Homo sapiens: one gene and its partners. The protein of the gene in region 7 purifies or fractionates together with the protein of the main gene of each other region. This does not show direct contact. Each region holds a gene or a part of one and is shown on either strand. Other genes may lie near its edges.

Evidence for each region.
Region 1: the proteins of OVOL2 (region 7) and PID1 purify together in Homo sapiens (affinity purification with mass spectrometry, with the first as the bait; one large-scale study listed by BioGRID). This does not show direct contact.
Region 2: the proteins of OVOL2 (region 7) and TMED2 purify together in Homo sapiens (affinity purification with mass spectrometry, with the first as the bait; one large-scale study listed by BioGRID). This does not show direct contact.
Region 3: the proteins of OVOL2 (region 7) and HNRNPH3 purify together in Homo sapiens (affinity purification with mass spectrometry, with the first as the bait; one large-scale study listed by BioGRID). This does not show direct contact.
Region 4: the proteins of OVOL2 (region 7) and AIFM1 purify together in Homo sapiens (affinity purification with mass spectrometry, with the first as the bait; one large-scale study listed by BioGRID). This does not show direct contact.
Region 5: the proteins of OVOL2 (region 7) and U2AF1 purify together in Homo sapiens (affinity purification with mass spectrometry, with the first as the bait; one large-scale study listed by BioGRID). This does not show direct contact.
Region 6: the proteins of OVOL2 (region 7) and IVNS1ABP purify together in Homo sapiens (affinity purification with mass spectrometry, with the first as the bait; one large-scale study listed by BioGRID). This does not show direct contact.

What each region holds. Positions count from the first base shown.
Region 1 is NC_000002.12:229,148,864-229,153,106, forward strand, and holds part of PID1 (PTB-containing, cubilin and LRP1-interacting protein), read right to left. Parts: intron 1-4,243. UniProt on the Homo sapiens protein: Increases proliferation of preadipocytes without affecting adipocytic differentiation.
Region 2 is NC_000012.12:123,590,633-123,594,875, forward strand, and holds part of TMED2 (transmembrane emp24 domain-containing protein 2 isoform 1 precursor), read left to right. Parts: intron 1-4,243. UniProt on the Homo sapiens protein: Involved in vesicular protein trafficking. Mainly functions in the early secretory pathway but also in post-Golgi membranes.
Region 3 is NC_000010.11:68,330,760-68,334,863, forward strand, and holds the start of HNRNPH3 (heterogeneous nuclear ribonucleoprotein H3), read left to right. Parts: upstream 1-1,304; 5' UTR 1,305-1,457; exon of another isoform or gene 1,458-1,476; intron 1,477-2,024; exon of another isoform or gene 2,025-2,343; intron 2,344-4,104.
Region 4 is NC_000023.11:130,138,265-130,142,507, reverse strand, and holds part of AIFM1 (apoptosis-inducing factor 1, mitochondrial isoform AIF precursor), read left to right. Parts: intron 1-1,890; coding exon 1,891-1,975; intron 1,976-2,636; coding exon 2,637-2,713; intron 2,714-3,806; coding exon 3,807-3,915; intron 3,916-4,243. UniProt on the Homo sapiens protein: Functions both as NADH oxidoreductase and as regulator of apoptosis.
Region 5 is NC_000021.9:43,104,458-43,109,318, reverse strand, and holds the start of U2AF1 (splicing factor U2AF 35 kDa subunit), read left to right. Parts: upstream 1-1,748; 5' UTR 1,749-1,824; coding exon 1,825-1,868; intron 1,869-3,473; exon of another isoform or gene 3,474-3,533; intron 3,534-3,763; exon of another isoform or gene 3,764-3,817; intron 3,818-4,861. UniProt on the Homo sapiens protein: Plays a critical role in both constitutive and enhancer-dependent splicing by mediating protein-protein interactions and protein-RNA interactions required for accurate 3'-splice site selection. Recruits U2 snRNP to the branch point.
Region 6 is NC_000001.11:185,298,066-185,300,447, forward strand, and holds part of IVNS1ABP (influenza virus NS1A-binding protein), read right to left. Parts: coding exon 2,372-2,382; intron 2,279-2,371; coding exon 2,152-2,278; intron 2,066-2,151; coding exon 1,934-2,065; intron 1,819-1,933; coding exon 1,645-1,818; intron 224-1,644; coding exon 1-223. UniProt on the Homo sapiens protein: Involved in many cell functions, including pre-mRNA splicing, the aryl hydrocarbon receptor (AHR) pathway, F-actin organization and protein ubiquitination.
Region 7 is NC_000020.11:18,051,149-18,055,391, forward strand, and holds part of OVOL2 (transcription factor Ovo-like 2), read right to left. Parts: intron 1-4,243. UniProt on the Homo sapiens protein: Zinc-finger transcription repressor factor. Plays a critical role in maintaining the identity of epithelial lineages by suppressing epithelial-to mesenchymal transition (EMT) mainly through the repression of ZEB1, an EMT inducer.

The DNA of each region.
Region 1 (4,243 bases), on a different chromosome or scaffold from region 7:
ACAAAGGTTAGCTCATATAAACTTTTAGCTTCCTGCATTTGAGGAGACAAGCAGAAGTGAATGTTTTGATTTGTTTACAGGAAAGTGTAAGAAAGAATAAAGAGAAAATAAATATCAATGACTCTGAATTTAGATGAAAATATCAATGGAAACCACAGGCTTGAATCTAATATATATATATATATATTATATTAGATTCTATGTAAATTTTATAGAATATTATTTGTATTCTGTCTTGGTATTAAAGTCAGAAACTTACTTTGCAAAAGAAAGTCTGTATAATTGGCATAGGATTCAAGAAATGCCCCAAATGGCCAACACCAAGAAAGAGCTGTAGAGATGCATGTGATGAGGGTGGTCACATAATAAAACTAATATTTTCATTTGTGTTAAGAAGTAAAAAATGGCCCTTTGTCTAAAATGAGAAAACATGACTGTATTTCAAGTTAAATACATAATTGATCAACGGAACCCAAAGATTTAGGTGTAGAAATCAGATACATGTGATGCTAATTTCAAATACACTTACATTCAAATCAAGAGTCCTTATCATGAGATAAGCTGGATGACTGGAATTCATTTCTAAGACTGGCTGTTTTATACAAGCACCCCCTGATAGTATTTAAGGGTTACCTGCAAAGTCTTCAGCTCAGAAACATCTCCCCTCCCTTCTATGAAACTGTAATCAATCTCTTCCTTCCTGAGAGCTAAGGGACTACTACTGTTATACCTGAAGGCAAGGAATCTCAAAAAAGGCAATATAAAAATTGTTATGGTTTACAGATCATTAACTCCTTCTTGGAAACTGGTTTGTTTGACAGTTACCCTCATAAATGGGAAGATGACCGTAGCGGCTTTAGACTGGGCTTCACATCAAGCCAGGCCAAGTGCCTCACTCAAGAGGAGACAAGATTTGGGTACATGGGGCCAAGCACATGGTGAGCACAGGCCTAGGTGAGGGGCTGGTGGGACTCTCGGCAAAGGACAAAGGAACAAGCGCTGCCGGATAGGCTGCAGAATCAAGACATGGACACCTTCAATCTAGGCTGGGAGGGAACAGAAAGGAAGGGGAGCACAAAGAAATATCTCATTCTGGCTGGGTGGTGGCTCAGGTCTATAATCTCAGCACTTTGGGAGGCCGAGGCGGGTGGATCACTTGAGGTCAGGAGTGCGAGACCAGCCTGGCCAACAAGGTGAAAACTCCTACTAAAATTATAAAAATTAGGCGGGCCTGGTGGCGGATGCCTGCAATTTAAGCTACTCAGGAGGCTGAAGCAGGAGAATCGCTTGAACCTGGGAGGTGGAAAGGTTGCAGTGAGCTGACATCACACCACTGCACTCCAGCCTGGGAAACAGAGTGAGACTCAAAAAAAAAAAAAAAGGAGAGAGAGAGAGAAAGAAAGAAGTAAAGAAAAGAAAAGACAAGAGGTCATGCTAAATTAGCCCTGTTCACCTCGGACATCCAAGGTTGCCTCAGGGGCCAGGAGAAGCAACCCCCTGAAGCCAACCCTCAGGGCTGACCTCAGACGCTGACCCCACCAGCCATACGAAAAGGATGTTGTGGAAAGACAGCGATGTACTCTCCCAATCAAGGCAGACAGATTCAGTCCCAAACAGGAGACCCATGTCAACAACTGCTAATGATCCTGCTTTTCCTGTTCCTATACACACACCTCCCCTTGGTATTTCTCTTCTGGGTTACTTCCCTTTTGTAACTCAGAGAAATCCTCATGCTCAGAAATTAGCACCAATTACAAACTTTATAAAACATTTTAAATAAAAGACATATGTTATGTGCTAAATCCCCAGTTATGTGTCAGTTTGTTTGTTACAATATTGCTGCTATTTTGCTTTAACAGTATAAGCACTGTGGAACGGGTATTGTACAGCATCCACACGGCCATATAGGAACTCGGTGGGCATTTTGTGTTGGTTATATATCTACACATATAATGTTTATAAGGCATATGATTTTTCATTGTAGAGTGCCTTTTTTTTTTTTTTAAGAAAACCAAATTTGAGAATCTGCGTGGTATATCTGGGGTAAAATCATATGATATTTTTAGTACTTTCCTTATGCTTTCTGGTTTCTGTAAGAAAAGATAACATCCCAATCCAATTAAACAAGGTAAATCCTCCAGCCTTGGATGTCTGGATGAAAGAGAGCAGGATGGGATGGTAGGCACGGAACTCAGAATCCACTAAGGAGTGTGTAACAACTCACCTGCCAAATCAACTAGCCCTTACATTTTTTTTTTAATTTTGTATAGTCCATGAGATCCTGATACTGACCTATGAAAGGTGCAGAAGCCTGAAGAAAAGAAACAACTTGCTCAAAATCACATGACACAACTGCCCCACCTGTTTCAAGAGGCACCTGTGGATAGACACAAAACCCACCCAATGGCAGTGGAATCCGGTGGGGGGGAGCACAGGCTGTGGAGTCAGAATGCTGCAGTTCAAATCCAGGCTCTGCTAGTTACTAACGAGGGACCCTGGGACAGTCAGATGAACTTCTCTATGCCTCAACTAGTTCATCTGTGAAATGGGGCTACACCTGGCACTTAAACCGTTGAGTTGCCATGAGGATGAAATGGCTCTATGCCATGAAAAGTGCATAGATGAGTGCTTAATGCATTAATTAACACCTGTTCTTTAATGTCAGTTCTGTGTTATTGTCAGTTCTGTGTTATTAAGACTTCTATTTCTTTTTTTTTTTTTTTCTGAGACGGAGTCTCGCTCTGTCACCCAGGCTGGAGTGCAGTGGCACGATCTCGGCTCACTGCAAGCTCCACCTCCCGGGTTCATGCCATTCTCCTGCCTCAACCTCCCGAGTAGCTGCGACGACAGGTGCCCACCACCACGCCCGGCTAATTTTTTGTATTTTTAGTAGAGATGGGTTTTCAACGTGTTAGCCAGGATGGTCTAGATCTCCTGACCTCGTGATCCGCCCGCCTCGGCCTCCCAAAGTGCTGGGATTACAGGCGTGAGCCACCGCGCCCAGCTATTTTTTTTTATTACTATGGTCATCATTATTATCACTATTTTGTGAAGGCTTTGAGGACATCAGTGAATGGCCCTGCAAGTCTCAATGAAAGGAGGGCAGCTCCTGCTGGAGGATAAGGTGGCACACACAGTGCTCACATCTGATCCAGTAATTCCAGAGCCCAGTTCTTCCTTAGAAGTCAGCTTTCTGGACTGCCATAGCAAATCCACCAAATCCCATTTTCCATCCCACTCCCCACCTCCCAGGGTACGGGTCTGTTCATGTCACTCAGGTTGCTCTTGTCACATTACTCTGCAGCTCAGAACTTCAACCTCCAAACACGGTTTGCCTTCATGTCAATTACATGGTACAATTTAAAGTGCAGGCTCCTGTTCCCCACCACTAAGCTGAGTGCCTGAGTCAAAATTTCTGGGAAGAAGGTCCAGGAGTCTGCTTGCCAGGGGATTCTGATACTCACACAAGTTTCAGAAGTACTTGTGATTTATTTATTTGGGCACTTGTCTTATTCCTTCTACTTGGCTATAGGTTGCATCCCCCACAATACCTATTTTTATTCCTTTTTCCACAATACCATGTACACAGTAGGTTTTCAATGACTACTAATTCAATAAATGTTTGCTAACAAGCTGAAGCCACCTAGGATTCCATCTTGCTAGATAGGAGGAGAAAGGTGTGACAAGCCATCATTGCTGCAGCAAAATCACACACAGCGTCTGATACTCCAAACAGCTCCAACAAGAGTCCTAATGCACTGCAGTGGGTTGTACAGTTAAATAACTCTACTCCAGAAAAAAAAAAAAAAGTGGCAGCAATAGAGGAGAACACACAAAGACCCAGCTGCCCGAAACATGAATAGCCTAGCAAGGCAATCCCGTCAGGACCCACGGAGAATACAGATCAGCAGAAAATGGGAAATCTGAGATGAGCTAGGGTCTCAGTGGTGCTCGCCATAACCCATTTTCAACTCCCCCTTTCCTTTGCTTCCTCCTGCCTCTTTCCCTCCCCAAACCCAAAGTTATAAGAGCTATTAGGAAAAAAGAGTGACTACTGTGTGAAGGCGGAGGGTCCCGTGAGCTGGCCCTGCAGCTGGGCCCGGGCTACATTGTGTTCATTATTCCTGGGAGGCGTGAGCCCGAGAGAGCGTTCCTTCTGCAGCTGGCATCTTGTGAGCTAAGTTACTAGCAAGAATCAGAGAGGAAACACTGGACTTTGTTCTTGAAGATGATCAGAAAAAAT
Region 2 (4,243 bases), on a different chromosome or scaffold from region 7:
TGGGACATTCATTGTAAACTAGAAAATGCTATTAAGATTTAGTACAAGTTTTTAAGAGTTTAGTTTTCTGGCCGGGCATGGTGGCTCACGCCTGTAATCCCAGCACTTTGGGAGGCTGAGGCAGGCGGATCACCTGAGGTTGGGAGTTCGAGACCAGCCTGGCCAACATGGTGAAACCTCGTCTCTACAAAAAATAAAAAAATTAGCTGGGTGTGGTGGCGTGCACCTATAGTCCCAGCTACTCGGGAGGCTGAGGCATGAGAATCACTTGAACCGGGAGGCAGAGGTTGCAGTGAGCTGAGATTGGGCCACTGCACTCCAGCCTGGGCAATGGAGCTAGACTCTGTCTCAGGGAAAAAAAAAAAAAAAAGTTTGGGTTTTTAAAAATGTATGGTGAGCTAAGGAATAAGCTAATTGTTTTCTTAAATCAGAAGGGAAAAATGTTGTAAAATGCGTATTGCATTGGTTTTTAATCACATACCTGAAACTTATGTACCAGTGGGATTAATATTAGATGCTGAGATTTAACCTTTTTACTAAAATGGAAAGCTTAATATAGTTAGACTAGAAAACACCAAAACATGAGTACAGGGAAGTCACCAGGTGAAGATCAGTTTGGGTCCTCAAGTTTGTAAGTTGGGAATTTGGAATGTATTTTGCTGTGGAAACAGTGATGATTGAAATCTTGTGTTAGGTTGCAAAAGTCTGTTTAGAACTGGATAGAGCATTAAAAATGAAGCTTTTGCATTTAAAATTAAGAGGTACTATATTGACAGACAGACCAATTCCATTGATTAGGTTCAGGGCCACACCATTGTTCAGTGTTTTCATCCTCCAGGTAGTTCTTGGGGAGATGAAAAGAGCAAGGTGGCTGGGGGCAGTGGCTCACGCCTGTAATCCTAGCACTTTGGGAGGCTGAGGTGGGCGGATCACAAGGTCAAGAGACTGAGACCATCCTGGCCAACATGGTGAAATCCCACCTCTACTAAAACTACAAAAATTAGCCGGGCATGGTGGCACGCGCCTGTAGTCCCAGCTACTCAGGAGGCTGAGGCAGGAGAATCACTTGAACCCCGGAGGCGGAGGTTGCAGTGAGCTGATATCATGCCATTGCACTCCGGCCTGGCGACAGAGCGAGACTCTGTCTGAAAAAAAAAAAGGAAAAAGAGCAAGGTATAGTGACGCATCTCTGTAGTCCCAGCTACTCAGGAGGCTGAGGCGGGGGATTGCTTGGGAGCAAGCTCTTGTCTTAAGGGCAGTGATTTTATGTCAGGAATCTTTGTTCTGAGACTGGAGTAGGAAGTGAAGAGTGACTCAAAGAGATAAGCACAGCTTGAATTTCTTCCAGATGTGCTTTCTGTTTTTCCTACCCTTAAATCTGTTCTTGCTACTTATGGAAACAAATCTTCAGGATCTAGAGCACAGACATCAGCTTGTGTTGGCAGGAAGGTGTGTAAATGTAATAGCCTGGAGAACTCCCCTCATCCCCACTTGTTTTAGGAGTGGAGTGGGGCATATTATGGACCAAGGCTTGTCTACAATTACTCCAGCCTCTTGCCTCACAATTTTGTCTCCTTGCCTCCACTCTTAATCTCACCAGCTGGGATCTTCACTTTTTCTCTCTTATCTTGTTGGGACTCATATGTTGTTTACCTTGTTCCCAGATGGGGAAACAGCCCATTCTGGAGTTGGAAGGGCACTGAACTAACTCAGAGGGCAAGTTCCTCTACTTTGCAATTTTAACTGGTTCAGACCAGATGGCTTTCAAGTTATAGAAGTTCTTGGGAACACAGTGGCCAGAGGAAGCACATGTCTTCCGTCTTTAGGGTGTCCAACCTTGTTCTCTCACCCATGATTTGAGTGGAGATACTCCTGTATTTGTTTCACAAATAGTGAGCTATGTGTTCATATTTAAAAGTGTTAGCAATTTCTAGAATTGAGTTTATAGGCATTCAGTTTAAATTTACAAAGCAAATGGTTCCCATAATGTTTTGTTTTTGTGAGTCTTCCTATAGGACCCACTCCTCAGCAGTGAACATAATGAGATCCTTTCACTACAGTGTTGTAATAATAATGTGTTGCTTCTAGATCAGGCTGATATATGAGTGGCATGAGGACAGTGTCCCAGGTCACTACATTCTGATGTTACTGTGCTTCAATGTGTTCTATTTAAACTTAAAGGTGCATTTTTCTTTGGGAGGCCGAGGCAGGTGGATCACCTGAGGTCAGGAGTTTGAGACCAGCCTGGCCAACATGGTGAAACCCCGTCTCTACTAAAAATGCAAAAATTAGGCCGAGCACAGTGGCTCATGCCTGTAATCTCAGCACTTTGGGAGGCTGAGGCAGGCGAATAACGAGGTCAGTAGTTCGAGACCAGCCTGGCCAAGAGAACAGCCTGGCCAATATGGTGAAACCCCATCTCTACTAAAAATACAAAAATTAGCCAGGCACATGTAATCCCAGCTGCTTGGGAGGCTGAGATCACTTGAACCCAGGAGTTGCCTAGGCTGGTCTTGAACTCGTGGGCTTGAGTGATCCACCTGCCTCTGCCTTTCAAAGTGCTGGGATTACAGGCCTGAGCCACTGTGTCTGGCCTATTTTCTTTTTACAGACTCTCTGGTTTTTGTTGTTTTTTTTTTAGACGGAGTCTTGCTCTGTTGCCCAGGCTGGAGTGCAGTGGTGCTATCTCAGCCCACTGCAATCTCCACCTCCTGGGTTCAAGCGATTCTCCTGCCTCAGCCTCCTGAGTAGCTGGGACTACAGGCGCACGCCACCACCAAATTTTGACGTTGTAAATAATTGCATTTTGGATAACTGTGATTTTGAAATAATTCCTTAATTTTTTGTAGAAGTCAGTTTTCTGATTCAGCAAAATGGATAGTAATATAGGACGTTTCAATGGTGAGGGAGAAAGATGGTTGGATTGGGTGTTAACCCTAGAATTATGACCTTGGGCAAGTCACCTTTTCTTCTCTGCTCCCCGTATACAAGCGGAATGGACTTGGCTGTACCCAGTGAATCTTTAAGCCCAGCTAATTTTTGTATTTTTAGTAGACGGGGTTTCACCACGTTGGCCAGGATGGTTTCTATCTCTTCACCTTGTGATCCACCCGCCTTGGCCTCCCAAAGTGCTGGGATTACAGGCGTGAGCCACCACGCCAAGCCCTATTTTCTTTTTAGAGACACAGGGTCTTACTCTGTTGCCCAGCCTGTAGTGCTGTGCTGACAATACAGCTCACTGCAGCCTCAACCTCCTGGGCTCAAGTGATCCTCCCGCCTCAACCTCCCAAGTAGCTGGAACTACAGGCATGTGCCACTACACCTGGCTAATTTTTTTTTTTTTTTTTTGGTATTGTAGAGACTGGGTTTCTCCATATTGCCCAGGGTTGGCCTCTGACTCCTGAGCAAAAGCAGTCCTCCTGTCTCAGCCTCCCAAAGTCCTGGGATTATAGTGTAATTGTTTTTAATGTTGGCTATTTGCAGAAAAATAAAACACTACATAGAATTTTTTTTTTTTTTTGAGATGGAGTCTCGCTCTGTTGCCCAGGCAGGAGTGCAGTGGTGCAAACTCGGCTCACTGCAAGCTCCGCCTCCCAGGTTCACGCCATTCTCCTGCCTCAGCCTCTCGAGTAGTTGGGACTACAGGTGCCTGCCACCACGCCTGGGTAATTTTTTTTATTTTTAGTAGAGACGGGGTTTCACTGTGTTAGCCAGGATGGTCTCGATCTCCTGACCTCGTGATCCACCCGCCTCGACCTCACAAAGTGCTGGGATTACAGGCATGAGCCACTGTGCCCAGCCTACATAGTAATTAAAAGCTAAGGCTATAGAATTTGACTGGAGAGTTGGACACAATGGCTTGTGCCTGTAGTCTTAGCTGCTTCTGAGCCTGAGGCAGGAGGATTGTTTGAGGTCAGGAGCTTGAGACCAACCTGGGCAACACGAGACCGTTTTTAAAAAAATAAAATAAATTGGCCAGGCGTGATGGCTCATGCCTATAATCCCAGCACTTTGGGAGGCCGAGGTGGGTGGATCACCTGAGGTCGGGAGTTCGAGACCAGCCTGACTAACATGGAGAAACCGCATCTCTACTAAAAATACAAAATTAGTCAGGTATGGTGGTACATGTCTGTAAGCTCAGCTACTTGGGAGGCTGAGGCAGGAGAATCGCTTGAACCCAGGAGGTGGAGGTTGCAGTGAGCTGAGATCGCGTCATTGCACTCCAGCCTGGGCAACAAGAGTG
Region 3 (4,104 bases), on a different chromosome or scaffold from region 7:
TTTTAGTAGAGACAGGGTTTCACCGTGTTAGCCAGGATGAACTTGCACTGATCTCTTTACCAGGCTTCCCCTTAACCCTCTGCGCAGAAATTCGGGGTTTTTCTTTGTGTTTGAGACAAGAGTCTCCCTCGGTCTCCCAGACTGGAGTGCACTGGCGCAATCACGGCTCACTGCAGCCTCAACTTCCAGGGCACAAGCCATCCTTTTGCCCAGCCTCCTGTGTAGCTGGGACTACTCGGGAGTCCCATCTACTCCCGTGCGCTGCCATCACGCCCAGCTAATCTTTGTATTTTTTGTAGAGACAGCACCTCACTATGTTGCCCAGGCTGGTCTCCAACTCTTACGCTCAAGCGATCCTCCCCCTCGGCCTCTCAAAGGCGTAAGCCACCGCGGCCAGCCTTTTTTGGAACTTAAAAAAAAAGCCATAATGTGTCATTAGGAACCTTGGTGACATGACAGCAAAACCAAAATGTACTTATTTATTAGGTGTCACTTGGAAGCGCAATTTTCAACAACGCAAAACTATAAAAAAAACCCAACGTCGGCCTCCACAGGCTAATCAGTCTCCGAGGCACTGACGGCGGGAGAGATGAAAACGCGAAGGCCAGAGGAGAAAAAGAGGAAGGATTTGCAGAGAGAACGGTAACGTGGTGGACATGAATACACCCAAGAAACCCGGATCCCGCGCGGCACATTGGGACGAAGCGCGCTGGCGGGCGGCCAGCAACTCTGGGCCAGGGGAAGGAGGCGGACACCCAGCCCGAGAGCCGAAATCGGCCCCAGTGGACGCTTTCATCTTCGCGGCCCAGAAACACTCCTATTTTTCACCGCACAATGCAAACATGGTGGACCAGAAAATCCGCCCCGCGTTTGCCGGTCGAACCACGTGGGGCCCTTTCCGCGCCGTCGATGCCTAGCCAGGGCGGGGCCCTCACAGAATTTGTTCACGGTGGGGGCAGATCACCGGAGAACTTCTCCAGAGCGCTACGGCACGGTTCCTTCTACACACTGGCAGAACTGCCATTGCCATCGCCCCGAGGCGGCAGAATGGTACGCTCTGAAAACTGGATGGTTCTAACGTAAGCAAGAAAAACGGTGCGCGCTGCAGCTCTTTAACTGGAACAGCCTCTGCTCGGTCTACCTCGCCCCCAACAGCTGCGCAACCCACCACCGCGCAGGCGCGCTGCGTGCCGCCAGCGCCATGCGAAACCGACTTTCCCGTCTCGCGAGAGTGGGGCCGGCCGCCTTCGCAGTTCTCGCTCCGCCCCCCACTTCTTGCTCGTTCCCTCCCATCCCCCCAAGCCAGTAGCTGTGCTGCGCAGCTCCCTAAGCGGTTGTCACCGCTGGAGACGGTTGGGAGAACCGTTGTGGCGAGCGCTACACGAGGCAAACGACTTCTCCCTTCTTTGAACTGGACCCCGCGAGCACCAGAGTCGGCGTAACTATCGCCTGACAGGGTATCTGAAGTAAAAGGGGGTAGGTTGGGCTGGTGGTTTCGAGAGCGGAGTCGGGAGAAGGACGAAAGGCCGGGAGGGGCTGGGTTGGGGGGTAGTGGGGTGGTCGCCGCTCGGAGGCCGCCGCTTGGAAGCGGCGGGGCTGCGCCTCCCCGACCATCTCCCACTTCAGGGAGGGCGGCTTGCCGATGGGAGGACTTGCTCAGGTGGAATTCAGTGGACGACGCCGAGGCCCGAAGTAGGGGACATCCAGCATTTTCCCCTTTCCCTGCTGGCTTGGCCTCCGCCATTTTGGGTACAGTGGCGCGGCCACCTCGGCTTCCCGCCCTTCCCCGCTCTTTTTACTTTTTTGTTCCCCAGCTTCCGAAAACTGATCTAGAAGGCCAGGGGAGGGGGTGGTCAAAGCTCCCTGGAAGGGATGAGGGTGGGTAGTGAAGCGAGCAGGGAAAGGCCGGGCAGTTGGGTGGAGGGAGGATCGGGTTTGCCGGGCGCGCTCCCGATGGAAATGGCGCCGGATGGGCCTGGCCTCCCACCGCGGCCTCCCTTCCTCCGCAGTCTCGGCAGGGCTACCTGGGCTGACGGGACTGCGAGTGACTTCTGACGCAGATTCCCAAGATGAGAGAGGCTGGAGCTGGGGGAGGAAAGCCAATGGCGACGAAGGTGCTCAACTCCCAAATCCAGGACAAAGGAGGCAGACGGCCTCCTTTGTAATTCTGCCGCCCGGTGGCGAAGGGTTTTAAGCCAGGCTTGGCTGCTGACGGGAGGGGGAAGGGGCGTACTCTCCCTAGCTTTCTGGTCTCTAGGGCAGCTAGATAAACGGAAAGTCTCCTGGGAGGAATAAAGGACGCTTAGCCGGCCCTTATATTCCAGATTTGGAACTTCGAAAAGAGTACGTACTGATTTTCCAAAGGGTTTTTTTTTTTTCATGTTTAAACGTTAATAAGGACTTCGGGGATGATTTTGTGAGCAGAAAAGTGGGTGATTTATCAAATAGGAATGTGAAATGGGCATGTTTCAAGTAGGTCGTCTGGGCCCAGTGAACTATAATTGTTGCTTTTTGAACTTTCGGGGTGGGGGTGGGTGATGTAGCAATTGTTTTGCGTAGTTTGGCGTATATATGTTAGAATTTGTTTTTAAGTTTTACTTTTGGGAAACAGTTAAAACAACCCAGTGATGGTAGATGTGTGTGTATTGAAATTGAGCTTTCGATGTTAAATCTTCCAAGAGTTGTATTTTGTGCAGTTTTTTTTTCCGATGGCATTAAGGCTCTAGAAGTAAAATACTTCAAAATACGGTTATGGTTTATTTTCTTTTGGTAGCTAGGCATGTTTTTTCTTTAGTGTAGGAGTATAGTACACTGTAATCGTATTTTAAACAAGGGAATAAGCCTACTAAACATAAAAACAAATTGTAAACCCAGTCACGTGGTGGTGGTGTGATTCGGATGAGGGTCCTGAGAACTGGATCCGTAATTTTCATTGAAGACAGTACAAAAGGGAGGAGAAAGGCCTGAGAGTAAGAATTTCTGATAATTCATGTAAAACTTTATAAGAATATTGTTACCTACTTTTCCAGCTCTAAAAACAAAAACTTATTATTATTGAAGATGTTCAGTGATGCTTTCTCAAGATTGCCAAGGAAAAGTTTACGAAAATCTTACCTTGAAACAGTAGGTTTGAGTGACCCTTTGAAGAGATAGTCCAGACTGTCCTGTAAAGTTATATATGATATAACAAATAGCTTTACTAATTGGATTGGACTACACATCTTTTTTCTGTCCTCTTTTCATTTGTGCCGTTATCTGGAAATCCATCTAATTGCCTTTTTAAAATAATGTTATCTTTGATTTCCTTGTTTTGGTAAACTGACTGAACTGCAGTAGATAAAAACCTGGTTCTAGTGAACTAACATTTTAGAGACCTTACCTCCTTAAGCTATTAGGGGTGTGTCTAGTTTTTTGTTTTTGTAAAGAGCAAGCCCATTGGGAAGGAATGATGTAAATTTTCTGTTAAACTTAAATCATCAGCACTTTTTCCAAAAAATAAAATTCATTCTCATTTCTTGACCACTGGGCTACCATTTAGAAAGTTATTTATTGATGTAAAATCCTTTATGTATTACTTCAGAAGATAGGCTATGCCTCCGTGTTAAGAGGATTCTCTATTTCATTTGTTCTTTAGTGGATTTTTTTTCTTTAACGACTTTGGTATATAATTCACATACCGTAAACTTCACCAATTTTAAATGTACAGTTTAGTGGATTTTAGTACATTCACAGCGTTGTGTGACCGTCACTACAATTTAATTTTAGAACATTTTTGTCACTCCAAAAAGATATCCATACCCTTTACTGGTCATTCCCATTGCTGGCATCCTCCCTCCCCTCAAGCCTCAGACAATCATGAATAGAAATGGAATCATGCAATATGTAGTCTTTTGTGACTGGCTTGTTTCACTTGGTGTAATGTTTAGAAAATTATACTTAAAGTCTCATAAAACTTGACCAAAGCTATCCTCATATTTTAACTGTGGTATCTTTTATTGGTACTAGCACCTAGAATTCTTAAAGCAGAGTAGTGATTAGCCATGACATTGTTGCAAAGAAAGGTTGAGGTGGATTATCCTGAATAATTAGTAAACTGTTTTAAGT
Region 4 (4,243 bases), on a different chromosome or scaffold from region 7:
ATGTTAATAGGCTGGACGGGGGTGGTGGGGAGCCCTCATGCCTCATGGGAAGCTATGGAAGATCACATCTAATGGCTTCATTTGTTTTTGCAATACAATAGAACATAAGATGGTTATCTGAGAGCGAACACCGTGAGGGTTGAGTAGCGGGATTGGATTGAAGAGGGAGCTTACCAAGGACAAATCAAAGGAGGCTAAAGAAGCTGCTTATCCATCAGATCTCAGTTCATGTCATTGCCTCTAGAAAGCTTTACCCAACCCAACCTGACTAGATTGCACATGTCATATGTTCCCAGCGCTACCTGCACTGTTCTTACCACTTACATCACATTTGTCACTCTTGATTATTGTTAGTGCTTGTTAAATTGTCTTGGCCACTAAACTCTGAAAGCAGCAAGGATCACTGTCTCAACTTGATACATAGTAGGTGCTTAATTGAATGGTCTCAGCTAGTAAAGAGTGGTGCAAAGACTGGGGCCCTATTCTCTCTGACTCCAAAGCTCAAGCTCTTAACCATAAGAAGGAGTAGGGTGCAAGGGAATTAAAGGTACTGGCAAAAGAACAGTTTGGGTGTTCTACCATTGGCCCAAATTAGTTAGAATGGAGCAGCTAGTCAAATAAACAGAGAAAATTGAAAGCAAGCATAGGAGACAGACTGAGCGAAAGCTGAAGGGATGGAAAATTGTGACCAACAAGTAGAATAATTGAGGTAGGAGGAGAGGTTTAGGAGATAACAAGATGAGGAAAAGTATGAGCCAGGTTCCAAGGTCTTCAGTGAATCAGGAGGAGTAGCCAGGAGGTGGCTCAAAACAGTGATTCGTAGGAATATAGGACTCCTCTGATGTCCCTCAGAAGAGAATGAAAGTACAAGAATCTGGAAGCAGCAGACCAGTAACCTCAAGAAGCTTGCAGAATGCCAACACCTCCTCCTGGCCTTGTGATGTGGAGTGTGGGGGAACGAACAGCCTCTATGTGTAAGCTCTCCTTAAGAGAGAGCCAAGTTTCCGTGAAGGCTACAAGTTGGAGAAAGCATTCTGTAAAAATGTTGTAGATGTAGGAGACTTATTAATAAAGTAATAATAAGTAATTCCAAACAGCCATATAAGAAAGGCTGTTCCGATTCTCCTTTTCCACACATGGGTCAGGGCTTTGGGACTGTCATGACTTGCTCTAATGTTGCCTGCCTTCTCATTGCCAATTTCCAACATATGACTGCCTAAAAAAACTGGGTACCAGAAACTGTGGTTCCCATGATTACTTGGATATGGTTTCTTAAGGATCGCTTTAGGTCAAGAACTCATTCTTCTTATTGGGCTGACAACTTTTTTTGTTTTTGTTTTTGTTTGTTTTTGTTGTTGTGGTTTTGGGGTTTTTTTGTTTTGTTTTGTTTTTGAGACAGAATCTTGCTCTGTTGCCCAGGCTGGAGTGCAGTGGCATGATCTCGGCTCACTGCAACCTCTGCCTCCCAGGTTCAAGCGATTCTCCTGCCTCAGCCTCCCCAGTAGCTGGGACCACAGGCATATGCCGCCACACCTGGCCAATTTTTGTATTTTTAGTAGAGACGGGGTTTCGCCATGTTGGCCAGGCTGGTCTCAAACTCGTGGCCTCAGTGATCTGCCTGCCTCAGCCTCCCAAAGTGTTGGGATTACAGGCATGAGTCACTGTGCCTGTCCTGGGCTGACAACTTCTTATTGACCTGGAGTTTTGGGGTGGTGATGGAAATGTTCTGAAATCAGATAGTGGTGATGGTGGCACAACCTTGTGAATATACTGAAATCCACAGAATTCCACACTTTAAAATGGTGAATTTGATGTGAATTATATCTCAATAAAACTTTTTCAATGCTAATTCATCTCTACCTCTTTTGTGTATGTGTGTGACTGTACCAGGTAGTACAGCTGGATGTGAGAGACAACATGGTGAAACTTAATGATGGCTCTCAAATAACCTATGAAAAGTGCTTGATTGCAACAGGTGAGCATTTCTGGAGATGGCTTTCTTCCCTGATACAGCTCATTCAAGTTTTAGAGTCCAGCCTTCTCTATGGAAGGCATTACTACTTAAGAAAATGGAAACCCAGACTCTCTGAAGTGAGTGTCTTCTCTTGGTACAAAAGCTGGCTGTGTCAAAGCATCCTGGATCACCAGCCCTTCTGGATGATCCTTGCTGTTCTCCCGGTAGAGGCATGAAGAAGTTGCCCTTTTTTCTCTCCCTGCTTAACCCTCACCCTGTGCCCTGTGCCTTGAAAGTGATGTCGTTTGTGGCTTCATTGCCAGTTGCAATCAGAAACCAAGAGAGGAGACAGAAGCAATTTATCAAACCCATGTAGCTATGCTAGCTGGCAAATCCTCATGAGAAACTAGAAGAGAACATGGAAGCCAAAAGTAAGGCCTTTTGGCCACCTAGGGGCAGGGTGTACCCCTTGAAGACAGACTCTCAAATCTGCTTCTCAAAGGAAACTGACAGAAAGCCTGCTGTGAGGCAAGCTGAAGGCAAACAAAGCCTTGGTATCCTATCCTGTTGTTGCCGCCATGGTGCTAAGTGAAGAGGGCTCCACCTTTGTGTGGTGGAGGGAGTATTGTTTGGGCTGGCTCCTGCTTGTTGGGCTAAAGGGTTTTCCTTCTCTTATTTCCAGGAGGTACTCCAAGAAGTCTGTCTGCCATTGATAGGGCTGGAGCAGAGGTGAAGAGTAGAACAACGCTTTTCAGAAAGGTAATTGTCTGCTTTAGTGTTTTCCTTGTGTTGTTTTTGAAGAAGTAGTATAATCTTGCAGTCCCCAAGTGCCCACCCGGGACTTGGGAGATCCAAGTTCTATTTATGGCTCTTCTCCAGACTTGTTATCTGGCCTTGAACAAGTCACTTCCTCTCTCTGCACCTCAGATACCTCACTCAAGGGTTTTAAGCTCCTAGGGAAAAAATGGAGTGTTTGTATTGCTTGCAATAGATCCTTCTGATTGCTCTTCCATAGTTGTTTTTTCCTGATGTGTTTGATTCATTGGAACCCCTTACAGCCTCTTGGCATTTTTCATTGCAAGTGCTGTGTAGAGACTTCTGAGAAAAAAGTTAAGAGTACCTAAATAAAAAGCAAGGAGGTGTTCTGCTTCTTAACACTGTGCTTATAAAAACTGCTGTCATTTTTCAGGGATAAGATTTGTCCTGTCTTTTTTTTTTTTTCGAGACTGAATCTCGCTCTATCACCCAGGCTGGAGTGCGGTGGTGCGATCTTGGCTCACTGCAACCTCCGCCTCCCGGGTTCAAGCGATTCTTGTGCCTCAGCCTTCCAAGTAGCTAGAATTACAGGCATGTGCCACCACGACCGGCTAATTTTTTTTTTTTTTGTATTTTTAGTAGGGACGTTTTACCCTGTTGGCCAGGCTGTGTACTGTCTTTTAAGTTCTTCCTAGAACAAGGCTTGTCAGCCTCTGCAGTATTGGCATTTTGAGCTGGATAATTGTAGTGGGGGCTGTCTTATGCCATTGTAGTATGTTAGCAGCATCCTGGCCTCTGCACACTAAATGCTGGGAGCACCTACTTGCCCTGACAACCAAAAATGTCTTCAGATATTGCCAGATGTCCTCCTGGGGAAGATAGGGACAAAACTGCCACCAATTGAGAACCACTGTTTATAGAAGGAATTTTACCATGAAGAAATAAATTTGCATTAATAACATAGAAGTTATAATTGAGTCACTTTATACAAGGAGAAAATTTACTTTTGCCAAAGATTTAGAAGAAACTACTTTCTAGTATTATTATCCTATGCCCCTTTTGGAAATTAATGGACTAAACTGATGTGATCCTGCAGATTGGAGACTTTAGAAGCTTGGAGAAGATTTCACGGGAAGTCAAATCAATTACGATTATCGGTGGGGGCTTCCTTGGTAGCGAACTGGCCTGTGCTCTTGGCAGAAAGGGTGAGTATTGAGGAGTGACCTTGATTTTCTTTCTCTAGTCTTATATAGCTTTTCTGTGAATCCCAGAGATGTGTTTGGCAGGATCAGTAGGAAGAGTTTAATTAAGGTTTATTTATTTATTTTTTTTTGAGATGGAGTCTCGCTCTGTCACCCAGGCTGGAGTGCAGTGGCGCGATCTCGGCTCACTGCAAGCTCCGCTTCCCGGGTTCAGGCCATTCTCCTGCCTCAGCCTCCCGAGTAGCTGGGACTACAGGCGCCTGTAACCACGCCTGGCTAATTTTTTGTATTTTTAGTAGAGATGGGGTTTCACCGTGTTAGCCAGGACTGT
Region 5 (4,861 bases), on a different chromosome or scaffold from region 7:
GGACCCCAGTTCACTCTGTCAAAAGGAAAAGAATGAGCTGAAAGCTGAGTCATGTAAGCAGCTGCCTTTCCTTTCGTTCCTAAGCAGACGGCTACAGATAGAAGGTTCAACATCCGCTTCTCTTATGTAAAGTGCTGATTTGCTGAGGAGTGAGCTGTACACAGTCGACTGTTCCCAACCTGCTTCTTTTCTCTTGCAACGTGTGGATTACCACACTGTTCCGCTTTCCCCTCCAGCCCACTTTTCCCCTTTAAATACTGAAGCCCTCAAAGTCATCTTTGGAGAAAGGCACAGACCACAGACTGTTTCTGTGATACCGTGTTTTTTTTCCTCCCAGGCATTGTCCTTAACCTTGGCAAAATAAACTTCTAAATTGATTGAGCCCTGTCTCAAGATACTTTTTGGTTTAAACCTCTGAGGCCCTACTGTTTCTAATACAGGTTTCCAGTTTGCTCATCTTTCCCAGGTAGGAAGATGCTCTGTTGCCAAGAGAAATGCAATTCTAACACGCAAATCCGCCCAAACACTAGAGCTCAGCATTCAGCTCTAGCCGAGCTAAGAGGATCCCATGGTCCTGCCCCACAGTCTGGGGCTCATCTTGTGGAGGAGGTAAGTAAAATAGGCCCTGTCTCTCTGACTTCTACCTAATCAGAGTTGATAGTTGCGTTGGAAATTAGGTAAATCGCAGGTGAGTTGATGAATGTGGGAAACCAGATGAAAATGGCTGCTTGATGGGGTTAAAACGCAGGAGAGGAATAGAACCCTTCCAACGGAATGGTTCCAGCCTTGTGACATGAGGAGACTGAAAGGGTATCCCAGAGGCAGGTCACTGGCCTTCCAGCTCCACCTGTGGGTGGCCTTGGCCAGGCAACTGCAAGAGTGCAGGGCCCCGGGGAGGTCGCACCTGGCAAGCGCTGAGGGAGGGTAAAGCGGAGAGGGGTGTGAGAAGAGAAAAACAACACAGAGCGTCCGAGCTATGTGAGGCGTGCGAGGTTAATCCGGCCCGGAGAGACAGGTCTATGCGGCTTCAGCGGTCCCCACCCATGCCTGGCAATTGTTTAAAGGCACTATTGCTCCGGACCCGCTGCCTTCACCCATGAACTTCCTTTCCTGGAATTATGATATAAAGAACAACGTACAGCCAATTAATAGCTTGTTATTTTCATGTAAATTCTTGGTGAGCTATTTAAGAACTGCCCCCCTCTTAAGCTTTATAAACCCACTTGTCACTGTTGCAAATCCTATGTTCAGGGCAACTTGAAGCTATGCTCCCGGGTTGCAATCTTCAAACTTGGCCCAAATAACCTCTCTACTTATATCAAGTTTGCCTCAGCTTTTTTTTTCTTCTAGGTCGACGGTTCCCGCCCCGCAAGGGTGCAGGGAAGGGGACGCCCGCACTTCCTAGTGCTCCCTTAGCTGGGGTCGAGCTGAGCGCCCCCCACCGAGCCCCAGGCGGCTCTGTGGAGAAGCCCCTCGGCCCCGGGTTCGGTCTGCACTGCCAGCCCCCAGTCCCCGGCGCGCAGGATCCAGCAGGGCCAGCGCCGGGCGGGCGAGAAGGCGAGAGAGCTAGGGCCGGGCGGGGAGGGCACCGGCAGGGGGCGCGGGTTCCCAGGACCGAAAAGGCGGAGCCTCCCACGCGCACTACGTGCTCCCTACGCGCATGCGTCCCGCCCACGCGCAGGCAGCACCTCGCCTGACTGGGTAGCGCTGCCACGTCGGGGCGGGGAAGAGCGTCGTCGCGTCCGGGTGACGTCTCCCGAGGGCGTCGGCAGGGTCGGCGGCGTCGGCAGCAGTGTCGACGGCAGCGGCGGCGGCGGGTGGGAAATGGCGGAGTATCTGGCCTCCATCTTCGGCACCGAGAAAGACAAGTGAGTGGGAGCCCCCCGCCGGGGGTTGGGCGCGATCGGGGCGCAGGGTGGTTGAGGCGGTGGGAGGGCGACCGGGGAGGCCCAGGCGGGCCGGCGCGGCGGTGGCGGGGGAGGGGCGCGCGGCGGGAAGGAGCGGTGGCCCTTCCGGCCCCTTGCGCGCCCTCCGGAGCCGCCGCCTCGTGGGCCGCGCGGCGGAAAACTGGAGCGGGCAGAATGAATGGGGTCTCTTTTCGGGGCGCCGCGGCCGAGCTTTCTCCGGCCTTGGGGTCCGGACTGGCTGATCGCCCGACGTCCGGGCCTCCGAGTCGCCGACTCCCGGAAGCCGCCTCGAGCCGCGCTGAAAGTTGCCTGGAGCATCCGGGCCTTTTGGACGTGGACACGTTTGTTCCAACTTTCGGCTGTGAATGTCCTGTCGAGCAAGCTCTGGTACCAGCCTCGCCAGTATTCAGTCGCTTATCTAACTTAGGGTCCTAAGCGTTGGTGTTTTATCCACTTAGCCAGCCTCTTGCCTGTTTAAGCGACCGCTGGGCCGGCAGTAAGGAGATATGACGAGAAAAAGTATGGTGGAGACTACTGGATTAACTATCTAACCACAAGAGACGTGATCCGCTCTTAACATACAGGTGCTCCTGGATTTACCATGGGATTGCGTTCCGATAAACCCATCATGAATCGAAAATGCCTTTAATACCCCGATAAACCCATCATCTAAGTTGAAAATTTGTAAGTCGGTGACTGTTCTTGAAGACACAATTCTGATATAAGGAAAAAGATGTTTTGATTTTTTCCTTAAGGTTGCATGCCTTCCCTAATCAATCGTTAGGTTAAAAGCAAAACATTTAATTTCAGCTTTAATTGCCACCTTGGCACGTACTAATTTCCAGTGAGTTGGCTGTAGTTTAGACTAAATGGAATGTTTTCAGACGTTTGAAGGATAATTCTTACTTTGAAAACCTAAAGACTCAGCATCTGGCTTAATCTACTCTTTAGTTATCTTGGCATTCTTCAGTGCCATACAAAGTTAACATGACTTTATGTTTTCAATGATAAACCCCTAAGTTTGTCATAGATGTTTTTAATGCCACTTTTTTCAAACGCTATTTAAAATGTTTCTCTTTTCCAGGATGGAGTCTATCTTGTAAAATGTCCTCTTCACACATGGTAGAATCTCCTGTGTTGTTTGGATGAGGAGGCTATATTTCTAGCAAAATTTTAAGCCAAAATCTACCAGTTATAGTCACTCCAGAAACATTTAGTGGGGGTCAACTATAGGTCAGTTTCTGGAGACTTAAACATGGGTAAAATTTGGATATTATCCTTAAGGAACTCACGGTATGATCTTGGCGAATGAATAGACCAGCTCTATCGGAACAAGAGACTCTTCTGAGTTTAGGGTGAAGAACTAACACATGTAGGATCGGGGCATCATTAATTTCTCCTTTTCATATTTGCATGTGGCATGACTTCTGTCTTGTAAAAGTCTATCTCCCTATATTTCTGCTATAAGCAACCACATTTCAATCTATTGGGCTATACTATAAAGGTCATGGTTTTAATTCAGAAAAGTTGATTATTTAATCTAGGTTACTTGTGTTTTCTTTTCAGGGAGACGTGGGGTTTTAGCTTCCAGGGAACAGGATCAACTCCTGAAAAATGAAGCTGATGGTTCATATTAACTTTAATTATTATTTAAGCTAAGAATAAAATATAGATCTCTACCAATTAAAAAATGTTTAGCTTATTATATGTTTGAAGTTATAGATGTTTTCTAGATTCAGGGATATCCTAATAGCTTGTCTGTAGTTTAATTGTGTGGAATAATTGGATATTAATTGTTGAGGCCCAGGGCTTGCCCATTCTGAGGTAGTTTTTAAATAAGCTTTCTTTATTTTTAGATGACTTCCTAAAGATATGCTATTGTCTAATCAAGTTAAATAATCTCAAGACCTGTAAGTTTGCAAATATATATAATCACTTTCCTCTCCTGATAAATTTGGACTTTCCCATCTTTATTGCTACCTGATAATAAATCAGTGGCTAGTCAGTCTTCATGGTCCATTAGATTTCACTGAGGTTGAGGCCCTTCAATCTTAACTCTGGATTGACTGTTTAAAACATAATGGCACTTGGTTAAAAAAAAATTGAATTTTGAACAAAGTCTGTCTGGTAAGATGTCCTAATTCATCAGAGATCGGCTTCCCTCCCTGACATTGCTGGCACACAGGCATGATTGCTGGTTCCATTGGATATGGATCTGGATTGTCAGCGTATTTGAACAGTATTAAGGGAGGGTTTTGCAGTAGAGACAGAAGGTGACGTAAGGTGGTTCCTAAGGTGGGTTCGGTCAGTCCCCTAATAGTTTGTTTTCAGTGTATTGAGACCAGGAGAATTGATTTACTTCAGACCTATTTTTTGAAACTCCCTGTTGGTCTGGTGTCATGCGTTTAGAGAGACTCTGAACTTCGTTTTCTGTTTTCCTTAGATAATGATAGCACTTCATGAGCACCATATGTGAAGCACACATACGTTCTGTCTGACTCTCAGAACAGTGCCACATTGGCATTGTCATCATTTACAGATGACATCTGAGAGCTAGGGTGACTTGCCCAAGCCCAAGCAGCTGGTAGCAGAGTTGGGATCTTAACCCTCACCACACCGGTGTTTTCAAGAGAGAACTTGGTCGTGGAGAACTGGAGAACAGATACTGCCTAAGTTACATTTAGTTTTAGACTAATTTAATACTCCATTTAAGAAACAAACAGAACAGCTGTGCAGTTAGGAAAGTGGAGGGGATTTGAATGAGGAGGAGGCGGGTTAGAGTTAGAACCGTCTTTGCTGAACAAGTAGTGTGTTTGCAGAAAGGGAAGTTGAAGTTACGTTGTCCTAAAATACAGCAAGGAAGAGGAGGTGCTTAATACCACGGAAAAAAGTCTGTGTCATGTTTCTGTGAGGTTAAAAGTAATTTGATAGTGTATGTCATGCTGCTGACATAT
Region 6 (2,382 bases), on a different chromosome or scaffold from region 7:
CATTCATTTGACTCAAGGTTATAGACTTCCACCGTATTCAGAAATTCATTGCCATCGAATCCTCCCACTGCATAAATGGTGTTCCCTACAGTTGCAATCCCAGCATTGCTCCTTGGTGAAGTCATATTTCCCATCATCTTCCATTCATTTCTAGTTGGATCATACATTTCCACACAACTGATGGCATGAGAACCATCAAAGCCACCACATACAAACAGTTTTCCTAAAAGAGAAATGAGATGGGGTAAATCCAGAGATTAAAGTGTAATAAGGTAAAACTCCCCTAAATCTGTCTTTTGCTTAAAAATCAGTGGTTTTAAAAATAGAAATGCCTGTTCATTTTGTCAAAAAGAATTTATTAAATGCCTAATATGACAAATACTCTCTAAGAGCTGGGAATCAAATCAATAAAAAAACCATTCCCACGTGGAACTTAGGCAACTTAAAAGGGGGAGGGAGAGGAAGCAGTAGCAGCATCTAAATAAGTACAATTTTCACCAACTCTGTGGTAGTTACTATTATTATTTCAGAGAAGAAGAAAAGCAGGAAGAAGCTGGACAATTATCCTACAGATGCAGCTACTAAGTAGCAAACCAGAATAGTTCTGTGCACTGGACTTTATATCAGCCCAATGTACAGAATTAAGACTCAGAAGAGATTATAGGAAAGCAGAAAAATATCTTAGGGCTTTCCAACTGTATAAAATGATTTTGGGGCCAGATGCGGTGGCTCATGCCTATAATCCCAATACTATGGGAGCCTGAGGTGGGAGGACTGCATGAGCCCAGGGGTTCGAGACCAGCCTGGGCAACACAGTGAGACCATGTCTCAATTAAAAAAATAAAATGATTGTGGTACAGAAATTTCTTCTGGAAACAGAGTTATGATTATTTTCAAATAGATAAAATGTTAGCAATAAATACTCCGTAGCTTAGAAAAAATTTTATTACTGATTCTCAAATTCATTATTTTTTCATTTGACCATCACTTAACCAGCTTGCATTCTATGTATCTGTAAAGCACGCTGACAATGCTCTAGGCCAACAGGCTGTGTCTACACTTAAGCCTTCACCAGTTGAGCCATAAGCCTGCTAAGGTTCAGCCTGGTACCAAAAACAATGCTAACTTTTAAATTATGATTATATAATTAGACATTAAAAGTCAATAAAATGGAGGTGGAAAGAAAGCTATGTCTACATTTAAAAAGTTTAATACTTTGGAAACTTGTTAAAATAGTCTAAAGGTTGTATTTCCAATTAGGTATGGAGTAGACAGTTGGAAAAGACTAGGGATTTGCCTTTGTTTTGCAGATCAGATTCTTTAAATTCTGGCTGTAAAGAAGGGGAAACTCAAAATTCAAGATGATGCATTAAGGATATGTTTTATAGAAGAAAATGACTTGGAAATTCACTCAGTGCACCCATCAAAAGACTGGTGAATTAAGTTATATATCAAGTATTATAAGTCTTTGATTAGAAAATATATTTCTAAAGGACAAATCACCCTAATCTCCATTGCATCAAAAGAGATGACTGCTTCTGAATTCTTAACTGTACAACTATAGTCATTGGCCTTTTCTCTCAGAGTTTTAGAACAAAGTCTTGCCACTATCTACTCTTCACCTCTCCAAATCCCAACACTCACCATTAAGAACAGCCACTCCAGCTCCTCGCCTAGCCACATTCATGGGTGCAATTAAAGTCCAGGTATTATTTTCAGGATTGTATCGTTCTACTGTGTTCAGACAATTCCAAGATTCTGCACCTCCGATTATGTACAAATAACCACCAAGCTCACAGACTGCAGACTGGTGTCTCCCTACAAGAAAAGTCAAGTCAAGATTATTGCTACATCTCCCAGACTCTAAGTGTATACTACACATACTGTTGATTTGAAGGTCTTTAAAAAAAAAAAGGAAAAAAAATCAACTTACGAATGTTAAGAGGGGCACAGCTTGTCCACAACTTTGTTACAGGATCAAATACATCACAATTTTTCAGTCCTTTTTGACCATATGGATCAGAGCCACCAACGATGTATAACTTTCCATTCAGAGCACACACTCCTATGTAAGTATAAAATAAAGTTACATATTGATAATTTAATTATCATATTTAAATACTGGATATCTCAGGAGAAAACTATTATTACCTGCATTACAACGGTTAGTTCTCAATTCTGGAACAGGAATCCAGTCATCTATGTTTGAATCATACATCTCTCCACAACTCAGGTCATCTGAGTGGCCATTTGATCCACCTACCACATAGAGCTGGCCCTATGCCAAAAGTGAGAGATGAGAATTTCTAACATCCTGAAGTTACGAGGAAAAAGCTAAATAGGGGTTGCTCCTGCAACATAATGCGCTTACCATGAGTACAG
Region 7 (4,243 bases):
GAGGATCGTTTCAGCCCAGGAGTTTGAGACCAGCCTGGGCAACATAGTGAGGCCCTGTCTCAAAAGGAAAAATAAATAAAGAGAAAGAAAAGAAAGAACTAATTAGCCATCAATGGAGAATTCTGGTTAACAACTGATTATCTTCATTTACAAATAAAGGTAAATAAAGCGAATCCAGCATTATTCTGCCTTTCATAAATGAACTGTGCCACTGGAAAACCAAGCAGTAGATGAGGCAAAGTGTATCTCTATAGAAATACATCAGTTAATAAACAGAGGACAGAATTAGATTATTGCTGTTTTAGAACACCTAATAAGCCAAAATATTTAGGTCCTGAGCATCAACAGCTGCTAACATCAGAAAAAGAGAGATAACCAAATATTCAGTGCCTCTGATGAAGACAGATGCCCCACAGTGTGACATATTCTAGCTGAAATAAAATAGAGCTGACCAAGCAGGGAGAGTTGCATTATCCAATAGAACTTTTTGTGGTGACAGAAAAATTATATTCTGTACTGTCCAGTACATTAGCCTCTGGTCACACATGGCTACTAGCATTTGAAATGTCGCTAGTAGGACTGAAGAACTTAACTGTTATTTTGAGACAGGGTCTCGCTCTGTTGTCCAGGCTGGAGTGCAGTGGTGCAATCTTGGCTCACTGCAATCTCCACCTCCTGGGTTCAAGCGATTCTCCTGCCTCAGCATCCTGAGTAGCCTGAATTACAGGTGCATGCCACCAAGCCCTACTAATTTTTTTTGTATTTTTTTTTAATAGAGTCGGGGTTTCAACATGTTGGCCAGGCTGGTCTTGAACTCCTGACCTCAGGTGATCCGCCCGCCTCGGCCTCCCAAAGTGCTGGGATTACAGGCATGAGCTATGGCGCCTGGTCTAATTGTTAATTCTTAATTGACTATGGCTGTGATAGTCACATGTGATACTGGATGCTGCAGCTGCAGATCCAACTATCCGTTTAGAGAAAACCTAGGGGACTGAGAAACATTAGGCACATGGTGATGCGCTCAGCAAAATCCAGACTGTTGGGGACTCTACAAAACAAATCACCCATTTCTTCAACAATTAACTTGATGGAGGGAAAATGTATGAAATTAAAAGAGGCTCAAAAGACATGCCAATCAATTACAATGTGTGGACATTATGTGGACCTGATTAAGCAAACTGGAGGGGAAAAGTATTAATTTATGAGACAATTAGTAATGTGAACACAATTGGTAATGTGGGTGTGATCATGAATTTTGGTCTTTATCCACTAAACGCACATTCTGAACTATTTATGGTTGAAATGGTATGATGTCCTAGATTTGCTTCAGAATCATGCATGGGGCAAGGGGTGGGAGTGTGGCTGGGCAGGACTGGCCATGGGTTAATGGTTGTTGGGGCTGGGTGGCAGATACGTATGACTATGCCTTTGAGATTGTAAATAATACAAAGTGATGGGGGTATGGGGACTACTCCGTAGACACACATCTGCACCACTACAAGACTCGATAGAGAGCCGGGTAAAAGGCCAAGCATACTTTTGAAAGAATCTAAACTTAATTTATTTTGAAGAACCCATGGGAGAGGACAAAAAGAAAGAACAGAATAGGAAAGGGTGAGAGGACAAATTCACTTGGTACTCCATACTTGGACCTGGGTCCTACCAGCCAGAGAATCACGTATGAATACTATCAGCCAACTTCAGAGTTACTTACTTTCTAATAAGCCTCCAAAGGACAATGGTGATTAGTATTTCCTGGGTTTCTCTACCCCGCAGCTGAAGACCTGCAGATGGATCCAGCACAAAAGGGACCTGCCATGCACACTCTCTGGAATGTACATCATCTTCTCACCCTTATTTGTTTGGCAAATTACAGAATTCTCAGTAGTAAAGAGACAATTTCACAATCTGCCCTGAGGCACACCGTCAAAAGGCAGGTAGGCTGGGAAGGGCCAGCCACATTTCCTAATCTGCACCTCGGACTCCTTTTCCAGATCCACCCATCAACACGATCAAGTTAGTGAATCCCATGTCCTTACAGCCAACAAAATGTTGGGCATTAAAACTTGCTGTATGTCACTGTCAGCTAACTTCCTCTTGGGCAGTTTACACATGCACAGAAAGCTAAACACTTTACACCCACTATCTCATTTAATCTATGCAACTCTTCTAGGAGGCTGATTCTTTGAGTCCTCCACTTTACAGATCAAGGAACTGAGGCTCAGAAGAGATAATGATCCATGAACACAGCCGTTAAGAGGGACCCAAATGGCAGGGCGCGGTGGCTCACACCTGTAATCCCAGCACTTTGGGAGGCCAAGGTGGGCAGATCACCTGAGGTCAGGAGTTCAAGACCAGCCTGGACAACATGGCGAAACTTCGTCTCTATTAAAAATACAAAAATCAGCCAGGCTTTGTGGTAGGTGCCTGTAATCCCAGCTACTTGGGAGGCTGAGGCAGGAGAATCACTTGAACCTGGGAGGCAGAGTTTGCAGTGAGCTGAGATTGCGCAACTGTACTCCAGCTCCAGGCGACAGAGAGAGACTCTGTCTCAAAAAAAAAAAAAAAAAAGAGGAACCCGATTGAGGTTTTCCTTCTTACATCATCCAGAGCTTCTCCTCTGCCCAGCAGGAGCACCCATATTTCTTGGCTTGGCCCCTTCACCATCTCACCCTGTCCTGGTTACATTTCCAGCTCTTTACCGCCAACTCTCTCCCTGACCCCAGCAAGCCCTGTTTCCTATCTTCAGCCACCAGAGCTTCATCCTTTCTATGCTCCAGCTGCGGGACTCAGCCCACACTGCCCTCAGGCCCACCCGCCTCCCTTCTCCCCAGCCTTCAAATCCACATCAGGACACTTTCCCCACTCAAATCGGTCACGTCTTTGTTTGGAATTCTGGTTTCACATTCACTGTCCTGCAGCAGAGTTAATAATGTTTGTGTCTCCCTATTAACCTGAATACTATCTATGGTTATTGGGCACATACCATGTTCTACCCTCCACTCATTTATCCTCACGATGCTATCAAGTAGGTATCATTATCATCTTACAGATAAGGAAACCGAGGCTCAGAGGGGTGAGCCACTTGCTCAAGGTCCACAGCTAAGAAGTGACAAAGCCAGAGCTTATATGATTAACCGCTACTGCCAGATGATTCTGGAAGGAACACCAGGGTGGGAGCATTTTTACCTCCTGCTGCCTTGCACACCCCAGGTGTTAGACGGGCAGAGTGTTGCTTCTCTGTGCCAGGCAATAGCTCAAACCTGCCCTTCTTGTGGTCCTGGGAGCCCACTGCCTAAGAAACTAATTCTTGGCTGGATGCGGTGGCTCACGCCTGTAATCCCAGCACTTTGGGAGGCTGAGGCAGGCGGATCACCTGAGGTCGGGAGTTCAAGACCAGGCTGACCAACATGGAGAAACCCTGTCTCTACTAAAATTACAAAATTAGCCGGCGATGGTGGCGTATGCCTGTAATCCCAGCTGCTCGGAAGGCTGAGGCAGGAGAATCACTTGAACCCGGGAGGCAGAGGTTGCAGTGAGCTAAGATCCAGCCATTGCACTCAGCTAAGATCCAGCCATTGCACTCCAGCCTGGGCAACAACAGCGAAACTCCATCTCAAAAAAAAAAAAAAAAGAAAGAAAAGAAAAGAAAAGAAAAGAAACTAATTCTTAGAGAAATTGTGAGTTCAGCATGCCTTGGAAAGAACTTTATAATTATACAACGTGCTAAGTCACAGGCAATTTGGTCAGTCATTTGAAAACTGCCAATGCCATGGCTGATAATAATTCTGGAGGCTTGGAGCATATTAACACCAAAATGTTTCCTTTTTGGGGGTAGAGGCAGAAAGAGGGAACCTAAACATCCCCAGTAAATAAAAATTCCCCTGGAAACTATGGAAAGAAGACTCTTAACGGTTCAGGAGTGAACTGTGCCTCCCGCCCCCCTTCCCCCAGCACACAGGCAACTAATCTAGGAAATAAGATTGGTTTACGTCTTCCTTTAATCCAGGATTCCAACGGCCCTGTGTGCCTGAGGCAGAAGAGTTTGCCTAAAATATTTGTTAAGAGACTGGATGAGAATCTGTCACTTTCTCTCCAGGGGAATCTGGGCAATTGGGGGACAGAGGGGCAAACTAGCTGCAGAGGCTCCCAAAACAACGTTGCAATTGTCCTTCCAGCCTGGTGATAAATATGCAAGTGGGGCACTTTGTAGAATCTCCCGAAGGGCAGAGCTACCAGCCTC